Linked DNA regions of Homo sapiens: region 2 is linked to region 1. The links come from fine-mapping of genetic effects on gene expression. A gene starts in region 1. The other region holds a variant in brackets. All regions are shown on one strand. Distances are between the middles of the regions. Region 1 holds the start of CLEC10A (C-type lectin domain containing 10A). Region 2 holds the start of ASGR2 (asialoglycoprotein receptor 2).

Evidence for each region. PIP is the estimated chance that this variant, and not a neighbour inherited with it, causes the effect.
Region 2: its variant is fine-mapped to the expression of CLEC10A in whole blood (TOPMed, PIP 0.93).

The regions. Positions count from the first base shown.
Region 1 is chr17:7,077,221-7,082,591 of GRCh38, forward strand. It overlaps CLEC10A (C-type lectin domain containing 10A), which reads right to left and starts at 3,031. Exons shown (of 9, transcript NM_001330070.2): 1 at 2,832-3,031; 2 at 1,526-1,665; 3 at 777-893. The coding sequence starts at 1,592.
Region 2 is chr17:7,112,185-7,117,555 of GRCh38, forward strand. ASGR2 (asialoglycoprotein receptor 2) reads right to left here and starts at 2,638. Exons shown (of 9, transcript NM_001201352.2): 1 at 2,431-2,638; 2 at 1,933-2,126. The coding sequence starts at 2,056. RefSeq lists enhancers at 484-984, 2,790-3,576. The variant G/T (reference allele first, on the strand shown) is at 2,502.

The DNA.
Region 1 (5,371 bases):
TCCGTCAACTCTCTCCATCACTACCCCCACCACCGTCCCCATCAATCACTCCATCAGTGCCCCCCCACCATTCCCATCAATCACTCCATCAGTGCCCCCATCACCATTCCCATCAATCACTCCATCAGTGCTCCGACCACTGTTCTCATCAATCACTCCATCAGTGCCCCCCACTATTCCCATCAGTCACCCCATCAGTGCTCCCATCACCATTCCCATCGATCACTGCATCAGTGCCCCCCACCATTCCCAACAATCACTCCATCAGTGACCCCCACCACCATTCCCATCAATCACCCCATCAGTGACCCCCCACCGTTCCTATCAATCACTCCATCAGTGCCCCCCCACCATTCCCATCAATGACTCCATCAGTGACCCCCAACCATTCCCATCAATCACTCCATCAATGCCCCCCACCATTCCCATAAATCACTCCGTCTGTGCCCCCACCACCGTCCCCATCAATCACTCCATCAGTGCCCCCCTACCGTTACCATCAATCACTCCATCAGTGCCCTCTCCTCCATTCCCATCAATCACTCCATCAGTGCCCCATCAGTGCTTCAGTGGCTCTGTTGTGACCCCCATGACTGTTGGTAGCACTGCCCTCACCATGCCCCATTGTTATCTCCACAGCTGCCCCCAACACTGTGCCCTGCATTGCTCCTACTGTGGACCTCACCATCGCCCCACCACTGCCCTACTGTAGCACCCCATTATTTATCTTCTACCCCATTATTTCTCTCTTCCCTGTCCACCCCTGTGACCCTCACTTTGGAATCCAACCACACAGATGATGACCAGCAGCAGGAGGCCGAGGCCCAGGGACAGCAGGAGATGGCAGGGCCCAGAGCAGAGACGCTGCAGGAGGGACTGGAGAGGAAGTGGCCCTGCAAGAGGAGAGAGTGTCAGGATGAGGAGGGTCCAGACACCGGAGACGGGAGAAGGAGAGGGCCCAGGGAGCTGTCTAGTGAGGAGGGCTGGGCACAGGGGACTCCAGGGGAGGGTTGGACAAGGAGGATTTTGGGGTGGGGGATGCCCAGGCCTTTGACTTCAGGGACCAGCACAAGTCCTCAGTCACACAGGCCCCTCACACCCCTGGGGACCCACGTGATAGCGATATGAGGGGTCCCATGGTCAGAGCTGGGGGCAGGGGCAGGAGGACACAGGGAGAGCTGGGGGCAGCCAGCCCTTCATGGGCTTATGCTCACCTACCTGCTGGACAATCAGGTTCACAAATGAGTTTCCTTCCAAACCCAACTACTTATCTTTCCCTCCACCAATGCGCAGCTCTCATCCCCACCCCACAGAGCATCAGAAGCTGGGTCCACTGTGATCCTCCCTGTCCCAGTCTTTCTAGAGACCTTGCATCCTCTTCACACTAGGCCCGTCAGAGGCTGGGGCCTGACCTCCTCAGAGTTAGGACCCACCAGTGCGCGTGGTGGAGGTACAGAAATGATAGGAGAAATCCTTCTAAACATATAAAGAGGGCATTTTAGGAGAGTTTCCCCTTTCCTCTTACCATTTTTAAACCCCTGGACTTTCACCTTATTCTCCAAGTACTGGAAGTTTTCATACGTCCTTGTCATGCTTGGGCCAACACGGCTCTGAGGTTGTCACAGCTGAAATGGAGGCAGGGCCGGCGCCCAGTCTGGGGTGGAGCTGGGGAATAGGAGGTTGGGACTAAGTTGGAGCCAAGGGCAGGGCTGACGTTGAGTTGGGAGATGAGGCTCAGGTTGAGAATGAGCCCAGGGTTAAGACGGAAATGAGCCTGGGTTTGCAGTCGAGTTAGAATTGGGGTCGAGTTGAGTTTGGGAGTGAAACTGGAGGGTAACGTTGGAGCTAAACGCATTGCTAGGACTACCCAGTGGGCCAGTTAATCAGGCAGGACTGGAGGTTGTATCTCATGCTAGGATTGGGGTCAGTATGCACGTTGGAGCCATGGATGGAATTGGGGTTAACTTTGGTGGTGAATTTGGAAACAGAATAGAGTCGAGGTTCAATTTTGGCTTTGGGCTGGTGTTAAAATTCAAGTTGATTCTGGGGTTGGGGTTGAAGTAGGAGCTGGGTGGGGGGCGACAGGTGCGGTGGCTCACGCCTATAAATCCCAGCACTTTGGGAGACCGAAGCAGACAGATCACTTTAGGTCAGGAGTTTGAGACCGGCCTGGCCAACATGGTGAAACCCCATCTCTACTAAAAATACAAAAATTAGCTGGGTGTGGTGGTGTGCGCCTGTAATCCCAGCTACTTGGGAGGCTGAGGCAGGAGAATCACTTGAACCCAGGAGGCAGAGGTGGCAGTGAGCCGAGGTTGTGCCGTTGCACTCCAGCCTGGACGACACAGTGAGACTCAGTCTCAAAAAAAAAGAAAATGTAGAAGCTGGGGTTAGTATTGGGATTAGGGCATGGCTGGGCTGAGATGAAGATAAGGCTGGAAATGGGCCACCAATGAGGCTGAGTCTGAGTCTTAGTTTATTTTTATTTTTATTTATTTATTTTTTGAGATGGAATTTCGTTCTTGTCGCCCAGGCTGTTGTGCAACGAGGCCGTCTCGGCTCACTGCAACCTCTGCCTCCTGGGTTCACAAGATTCTCCTGCCTCAGCTCCCGGAGTCTTAGTTTATGACAGGGGATTGTGGCTGCCGTAACCCAATCTAGAATCCAGTGAAGGGAACAGAGTCTCAAATCTCCACGTAGTAATTAAACCCCACACTGCCGCCTTATATTTATTTTCATTTAGTCCCACCCAAGACCCAAAGTCCCCCTCTCCCTGCTTCCTCTGACATCCCCTGTCCCCTGGGTCTCACCGGCACCGGCAGCACCATTACCTGTGGGAGGTCTGGAGGGTGTGATTCCCACGTTGGTTGTGCTGCAAGGACCAGAGGTGGGACGTCACTCAGAGTTGGGAGCGCTGTGTCCTGGAGAGCTGGGGTAGAGGTGACTGGAGTCCTGCTGGTCTTGGGTCTGAAATCCCAGGAGCCCTATCATCTGGGACATCCCATCTCCTCAACTTTAGACAGTAAATGAGAATGAACAGGGATTAGAACACACAGAGACCATGTGTGGGTGGGGAGAGTTGGGTTTGAGGCCAGCTCTGTTCTCCTCCTCCAGGCCATGCCTACTTCCTTTCCTCTTCTCGGAGCTTCCTCATTTTTACCATCTGGGAGCAGGGCTGGATCAGAGGTACAATCTGCTGTTGCTCCTCTACCCTACACTTCCTTTCACTTCCTGCCTCTACATTTCCCAGAATTGTTGGGTCTCCATCATCGCACCTCTGATCCTAGAGAAGCCCAGTCTGTTCTCTTGCTCAATCCTGGCCTGAGTCCCTGGCATCAGCATCCTCTGGGTCCCAGTCATTCGGCTGCTCAGCTGTGGCCTCGCTCGCCTCACTCCACTCGGAAGGAGGGAAGGGGGTGCCAGAGAATAGAACTTCTTGGCCCTAATAGGACGGGAGAAGCCAAGGAAAAGAGCAAATTTTATTGAGTAATCTGTGATAGGATTATGCCAGACATTTACCTTCCACAACCATTCCCCCCAAGCACCTGGGGAGGCATTTTGGATGACGGACTAAAGGCTCAGAGCCCAAGATCACTCACAGCTTGTAAGGAGACAGTTTGGCACCCTGCTCTGGCTCTCAGCACAGGCGCTGTCTTCATGAACAGGATTCCATTTCATCCCATGATCCCTGCTCAACCCCTAAGGGAGCTGCCCTGAATCCACGCGCACATCCCTTTCAGTAGGAAGGAAACTGAGTATCTTACAAGGTGGAGAAGGAGAAGAAATACATTTTAGGTTATATTTTGTATGTACATGGGGTTGTGTTCTGCTATGTGCTTTTTTTTTTTTTTTTTGGAGTTAACAAGCTATCAGGAACATTTCTCCACATCAGTTTATAAAATGTACTTGATCTACCTGCACCTCATTTCATCATAGGCACCGTAATTTATTTATTTAGCATTTCTCTATTGACAGAAATAAATCAGAAATTTAAGTTGTTTCTTTTTCTTTTCTTTTTTATTTTATTTATTTATTTATTTTTTTGAGACAGAGTCTCACTCTGTTGCCCAGGCTGGAGTGCAGTGACACAATCTCGGCTACTGCATCTCCTGGGTTTAAGCGATTCTCCTGCCTCAGCCTCCCGAGTAGCCGAGATTACAGGTCCCGCCACCACACCCAGCTAATTCTTGTATTTTTAGTAGAGAGGGGTTTCACCATATTGGCCAGGCTGGTCTTGACCTCCTGACCTCACATGATCTGCCCGCCTCAGCCTCCCAAAGTGCAGGGATTACAGGCGCGAGCCACCGCACCCGGCCAGGTCGTTGCCAGTTTTGTTTTTATTTGGTATTCGGTATTTTGATTAGTATATGTCGCAGGTTCGGTTTTTGGAAGCCAAGGTTGAGGCTGAATTTGGGGTACAAGCTATTTATTAGGGATTAGCACTTCGAAAAGGAAAGTGGATGAAATGGTGCTGGGCAGAGGGAGAAGCCCAGCACTTTGGAGAGCTTCAACCAAACCAACAGGGAGCTCTGGGTTCAAACAATGCCACCCCCGGGAGCTGTCCAGCATTGGACTGCCACAGGGTCCTGTAGAGCACCAGCTCCTTCGGTCACTGGCAGTCAGCCCTGACATGGGTGTGACCTCAGGAAGCAGCTGTCTGCAGGTTACACTCCCCACAGTGGGTCACCACATCCTTCCTAGAAGGGGGACCTGGGTAGCTCTCTGTGTGTCTACCACAGTCTTGCAGTGTATTCACATATTAATTTGGAGATAATCAACATTTTGACATTGTTGAATCTTCCATGAAAAGAACATGATATTTCTCCATTCACTAACTTTTTTTTTTCAGTCTGGTTCAGTGGGTTTGAAGCTTCTTTTTTTTTTTTTAGTTCTGGGATACATGTGCAGAATGTGCAGGTTTGTTACGTAGGTATACGTGTGCCATGGTGGTTTGCTGCACCTATCAACCCATCACCTAGGTTTTAAGGCCCGCATACATTAGGTATTTGTCCTAATGCTCTCCCTCCCCTTGCCGCCCACCCCCTGACAGACCCTGGTGTGTGATGTTCCCCTCCCTGTATCCATGTGTTCTCATTGTTCAGCTCCCGGTTATGAGTGAGAACATGCGGTGTTTGGTGTTCTGTTCCTGTGTTACTTTGCTGAGAATGATGGTTTCCAGCTTCATCTATGTCCCTGCAAAGGACATGAACTCATTCTTTTTTATGGCTGCATAGTATTCCATGGTGTATATGTGCCACAATTTCCTTATCCAGTCTATCATTGATGGGCATTTGGGTTGGTTCCAAGTCTTTCCTATTGTAAATAGTTCTGCAATAAACATACGTCCAATCACTCTTATACACATTTATTC
Region 2 (5,371 bases), 35 kb after region 1:
GAGTGAGCTGTGGGACCCTTAATACATGCATAATTGAAATCTTTAAAAGAAAAAGGGGGTAGCAGAAAAAAATCAAGTGCTGAGACAAGTGGAAGATGGGCCCCGGTGAGCAGCTGATCAGTGTCAGCTCCCATGATGACGTTCCCCCAGCCCCCACCACCCGGGCTGCTGGAGGGAAATGCGGTGACTTTGCTACATCCCTTCAGACGGTCCCTCACTGGTGTCCCTCAGCCCATTCGCGTGAGCTCACTCTCCCATTAATTTCAGAAATCCTGGCCTCTCTCCAAGCCTCCTGCTCAAACTCTAAATTCTGTCACCCTCAGAAGATTCAGCAGCATCCCGTATTCTCTCTGAGTGTTCACTATGTACCGGGTGCCGTGTGGGCACTGGAGTTGCAGAGGAGAGTGAGGCGGACAGGGCCTCTGCCTGTGGGGACACCGCCTGGTGGGAAGTCCAGCCAGCCCCCTACAGAGAGAGGAGATGCTACTGGTGTTCCTGAGTGGTCCTCGGGAGGGACCTCCTATCCCTCCTGTCCCCTGCCCTGCCCTGCCCAGCACCGGCCCTCCCTCGGTTGGCCAGCCTCAGGAATGAGGAGTCCCTCATTCCAGCCCAGCTAACCAATCCCCTTCCTAAGCTCCAAGCCCCTGCTCCTCCTGCCTCCATGGAACCCGGCTCCACCACCAGCACCCACACACCTGACACTCCTCCATTCCTGGCTCTTGCCCTTCTGCCTAGCACTGCTCAGATCTCTCTCACCTTAAAATCTTTTCCCACCAGCCTGGGCAACATAGCAAGACCCCATTTCTCTAAAAAATTTTTTTTAATTTGCCAGGCACAGTGGTGCACACCTGTAAGTCCTAACTACTTGGGAGGCTGAGGTGGGAGGATGGCTTGAGCCCAGGAGTTCGAGGTTGCAGTGAGCTATGATCCTGCCACTACACTCCTGTCTCTAAAAAAAAAATGTCCAAGATACTTAGGTCCTTCAGTCAAGATTTATTACAGAAGGATCCAGGGAAGGGTCTTGGGAGATGAGAGGAGCAGGGATCTTCCAGGATCTCTCTGTGCTCACGTCCCCCACCCATCCCAACTCACCCCACCTCTACACACACACACACACACACATACAATCACATACACACACTAACACACACACTCACGCAACACACTCACACACACAACATACATAACACACTCACAACATACACACACAACACACACACTCGCACAACATACACACACGCACAACATACACAACACTCACACAACACACAAACATACATACACTCACACAATACACACACACAACACACACACAACATACACAACGTACACACACACAACATACACACACTCATACACAACATACATACACACAACATACACACAACATACACACACTCACATACACAACATACACTCGCACAACATACACACATGCACAAGATACACACACAACACACAACATACACTCACACACAAGATACACACAACATATACTCACACAACATACACACACAACACACTCTCACACACAACATACCCTCTCACATACACGACATACACACACACAACATATGCACGCTCTCGCGCACATATACACACACACAACATTCACTCACACACACACACAGAGTCCCAGCTGAATCTGCATTCCTCATATGCACATACGTGCACACGCACATACGAGGCACATGTGTTCTTGGGTTGGGAGGAGAAGGGCAGGCAGTTATCTTCCAGATCTCCCCACACCTCTGGCACATGCCTTTCCTGGGGTCCTGGGGTAGACAGGAAGGTGAGGTGAGGGAACAAGCGGGGGTGTCGGGCCCTCCTCAGTCCCTGTTCACAGAGTGGGTGCGGCAGAGACCTCAAAGGGACAGAGCAATCATGAGCTGAGACAGAGGGGGAGCAAAGCCGCAGAAACTGCACACTTGCCTTTCAAAAATGGATTTCCTCTCCTGGGATTCAGCCTGCGAGTGCCTGGCCCCTCACCTTGATGGAAAGGATGGTCATTTTCCTCCGAGCTCAGCTGCTGGATATCTTGAAAGTCCTTGGCCATGATGGGGCCCGGGCTGGAGCTGGAGCTGGAGCTGGGCTGGGCTGGGCTGAGGTTGCTCTGAGGGCTGGGGCTGGGGCAGAGGTGCAGATTCACGTGGAGGTTGATGGTGGGATGGAACGCAGGGTCGGAGGGGTTCGGGGTGGTGGCCTGGGTAGGATCTGAGGTTGGCAGGGCGTTTGGGATGAGGTTTGAAATCCCGCTGGGTCCTTTCCCTTCTCAGGAGACCGCTTGGGCCTTGACCTGGCCAGGAGACCCCTCCCCACGCTCATGGACCCGACCACCCACAGCTTCCCATGGGGTCCTCCCCATCCCTGAACCAAGGCCTCCTTGTTCCCAAGCATCCTCGTCCCAGTTGCCTCCCCAGCCTCAGTTACCTGTGAAAGGTGTGGAGAGCGGACACCTGGCTCCCGCAGGCAACCCTGGCCTTGGCCAAGGAGGGGTTAAA[G/T]CCAGGAGAACTGGGGCAGGTGGAGCTCACAGGGGAGAGGAGAGTGGAGGAGGGGCTGGTCCGGGCAAGGCCTGCACTGGAGGGTCTGAGTGTCCAAGCTCTAACCTGGCACCTCCTGGCCTGGGACTTTGGACAGTAAACAGAAGAGGAAACAGAGCTGTAACTCATTTGTGGGGTGGGGGCAGGGGACGGGGCTATCTCTGTTCTTATTCCCAGAGAGGGGGGTCCCCTGGGCTGCGCTCAACTCCACACGCCACTCACCCCACTCATTGCACCATTTGGAAGGGGTGCCAGGCCAGGAGGGGCTGGGGTGCAGTTTGCCGTTTCCCTCTCTCCCTCCCCCTCTCACTTCCTGCCTCCGAATTTACCAGAACTGTGGGTGTCTCCAAATATCCCTGACCAGGATCACAGCGACCAGTTCTCTACTCTTGCCCAATCCGGCATCTGAACCACAGACCCCAGCTTCCTGTGGGCTCGGCCACCAGACTCTCAGCTCTGGCCCAACTCGCTTCACTCTCCTGGAGAGTAAAGCCTCTCAAATCCAGAAGCTTCAGCAGGAGGAGGAAGGGGCTTTGCAGAAAAACAGCTCTCCTCGCAGGAGGAATCCAACCTCAGAGAGCCCCGTCCGGCCCAGACCCTGCCCCAGCCCAGGCAACACAAACACTGTCCTCAGGCCCAGCCACTGCCCTAAATTCTCCAAGGTGTTTCTTCATTTATCACAGCACAACACCCCCACGAGGCAGGACTTCTGTTACTCCCATTTCACAGGGTTCGGAAGCGGAGCCTCGGAGAGATGAGGCAACTTGCTCTAGGTGGTGGCCCAGGTGAGTAGAGAAACTGGCAAAGCAAAATGGAGTAAAGAGGGGAAAATAACATCATAACAAAAGGTCTGGCCGGGCACGGTGGCTCACGCCTGTAATCCCAGCATTTTGGGAAGCCGACGTGGGTGGATCACCTGAGGTCAGGAGTTCGAGACCAGCCTGGCCAACATGGTGAAACTCTGTCTCTACTAAAATACAAAAATTAGCCGGGCGTGGTGGCAGGGGCCTGTAATCCCAGCTACTCAGGACGCTGAGGCAGGAGAATCGATTGAACCTGGGAGGCGGAGGTTGCATTAGCCAAGATTGCGCCATTGCACTCCAGCCTGGGCAACAAGAGAGAAACTCCATCTCAAAGAAAAAAAAAAGAAAGAAAGAAAAAGAAAAGAAAAGGTCTTCATGGTCCTACGAGGAAGACTGGCTTCCATGAAGCAAGGAACGTGGCTGACTGTCTACACTTGCGCTAACAATAGCTCGGGAAAGAAAACACAGTTTTTGTGCATGATTTTCTGACCCTCACCAAACTTGGGCGGATGGCTACGGGCAGGGTTTCTTATAAAGCTGCTCGTTTCCCCGGGTGCCGAAAAGGAATTCAAACAGAGGCCTTTTCTGTTCTTGTAACTTGCTGACCCACATGGGAAGTAGCCACCCCCCCAGTACCCTGACATTCCCACCCAGCCACCAGGCAGCAGCAGCCGCTGGGCTCTCTGACTGCAGCCCACAGCGAGAGACGAATTTCATGCTGTGATCCAGAACATACACACAAGCACCCGCACACACAGGTGCATTTGTATGTGTTACTTTCTCCTGGATCCCCAGTGCCTGCCACACAGTAGCTGCTCAACAAGTATCTACTGAGTGAGTGAGTGAATAGAATAATGCGTTTGGAAATACACGGTTGACACTAAAGTTTGATGGGACAATGCTCACCTTACTACGTGCCTTCTGTTGAGTTTCCCAGTCCATTAATGGGTCACAACTCAAAGTCTGAACAACACTGCTGTGAAGCCCCCATCTTAAGGGGCATGTGGATTTAGTCCTGAGATACAGGTAAGAGCTTCACAGATGGATTGTCTACTGCATGTCAAGCTTTGCCAACTGCCAACCAGGGATGGGGCCATCCTCATTGGCCACCCCTTTGACTGAACCAATTCCACGTTTCAGGGCTTGTCACTTACACCCCCACTCACGGCACTACAGGGAGAGAAGGGACAGAGAAAGCCAGACTCATCTGCGTCCTTCTCTTTCTCCCTATTTGAAAATCATTTTAACTTAGAAGTTAACATGTACTTGGACTATTTCTGAAGTTTCCATATTGTTGGAGGTTTTCTGTTTTGGGTTATGGAATCCTATTTTCTTTGATTGATTTTTTTTTTTTTTTTTTTTGAGACAGAGTTTCACTCTTGTCACCCAGGCTGGAATGCAATGGCGCGATCTCAGCTCACTGCAACCTCCACCTCCCGGGTTCAAGTGATTCTCCTGCCTCAGCCTCCTGAGTAGCTGGGATTACAGGCATGCACCACCACGCCCGGCTAATTATTTGTATTTTCACCATGTTGGCCAGGCTGGTCTTGAACTCCTGACCTCAGGTGATCCGCCCATCTCAAACTCCCAAAGTGCTGGGATTATAGGCGTGAGCCATCGCGCCCGGCCTTATTTGGTTGATTTTGATTTGGGGTTTATTTGTACCTCAGACACAAAGGTTAGATTGGTCATATTCCTTACTTCATGACACTAGGTCTTCCTCAGAGGTCTGAGCTAAACCTTTGTCCTGTTTCGTTCTTCCCTAGCTCCCATCCTGTTTCCCCTCACTAATTCTATACTCTCTACTCTCTATAGGCAGCCAGAAGTCTGAGTGCCCTGACAGTCCCCACAGATGGTGCCCATCAATTTCTCCCCTCACCACATGTGCAAGTCACACCACTCAGCCAGGGGTAGAGTCTGTTTCCCCTCCCCTTGAGTCTGGGCTGGCCCTGTGACTTGCCTTGACCAACAGAAAGCACTAGAAATGACACTCTGCCAGTTCTGGGCCTGGACCTCAAGAAACCTGGT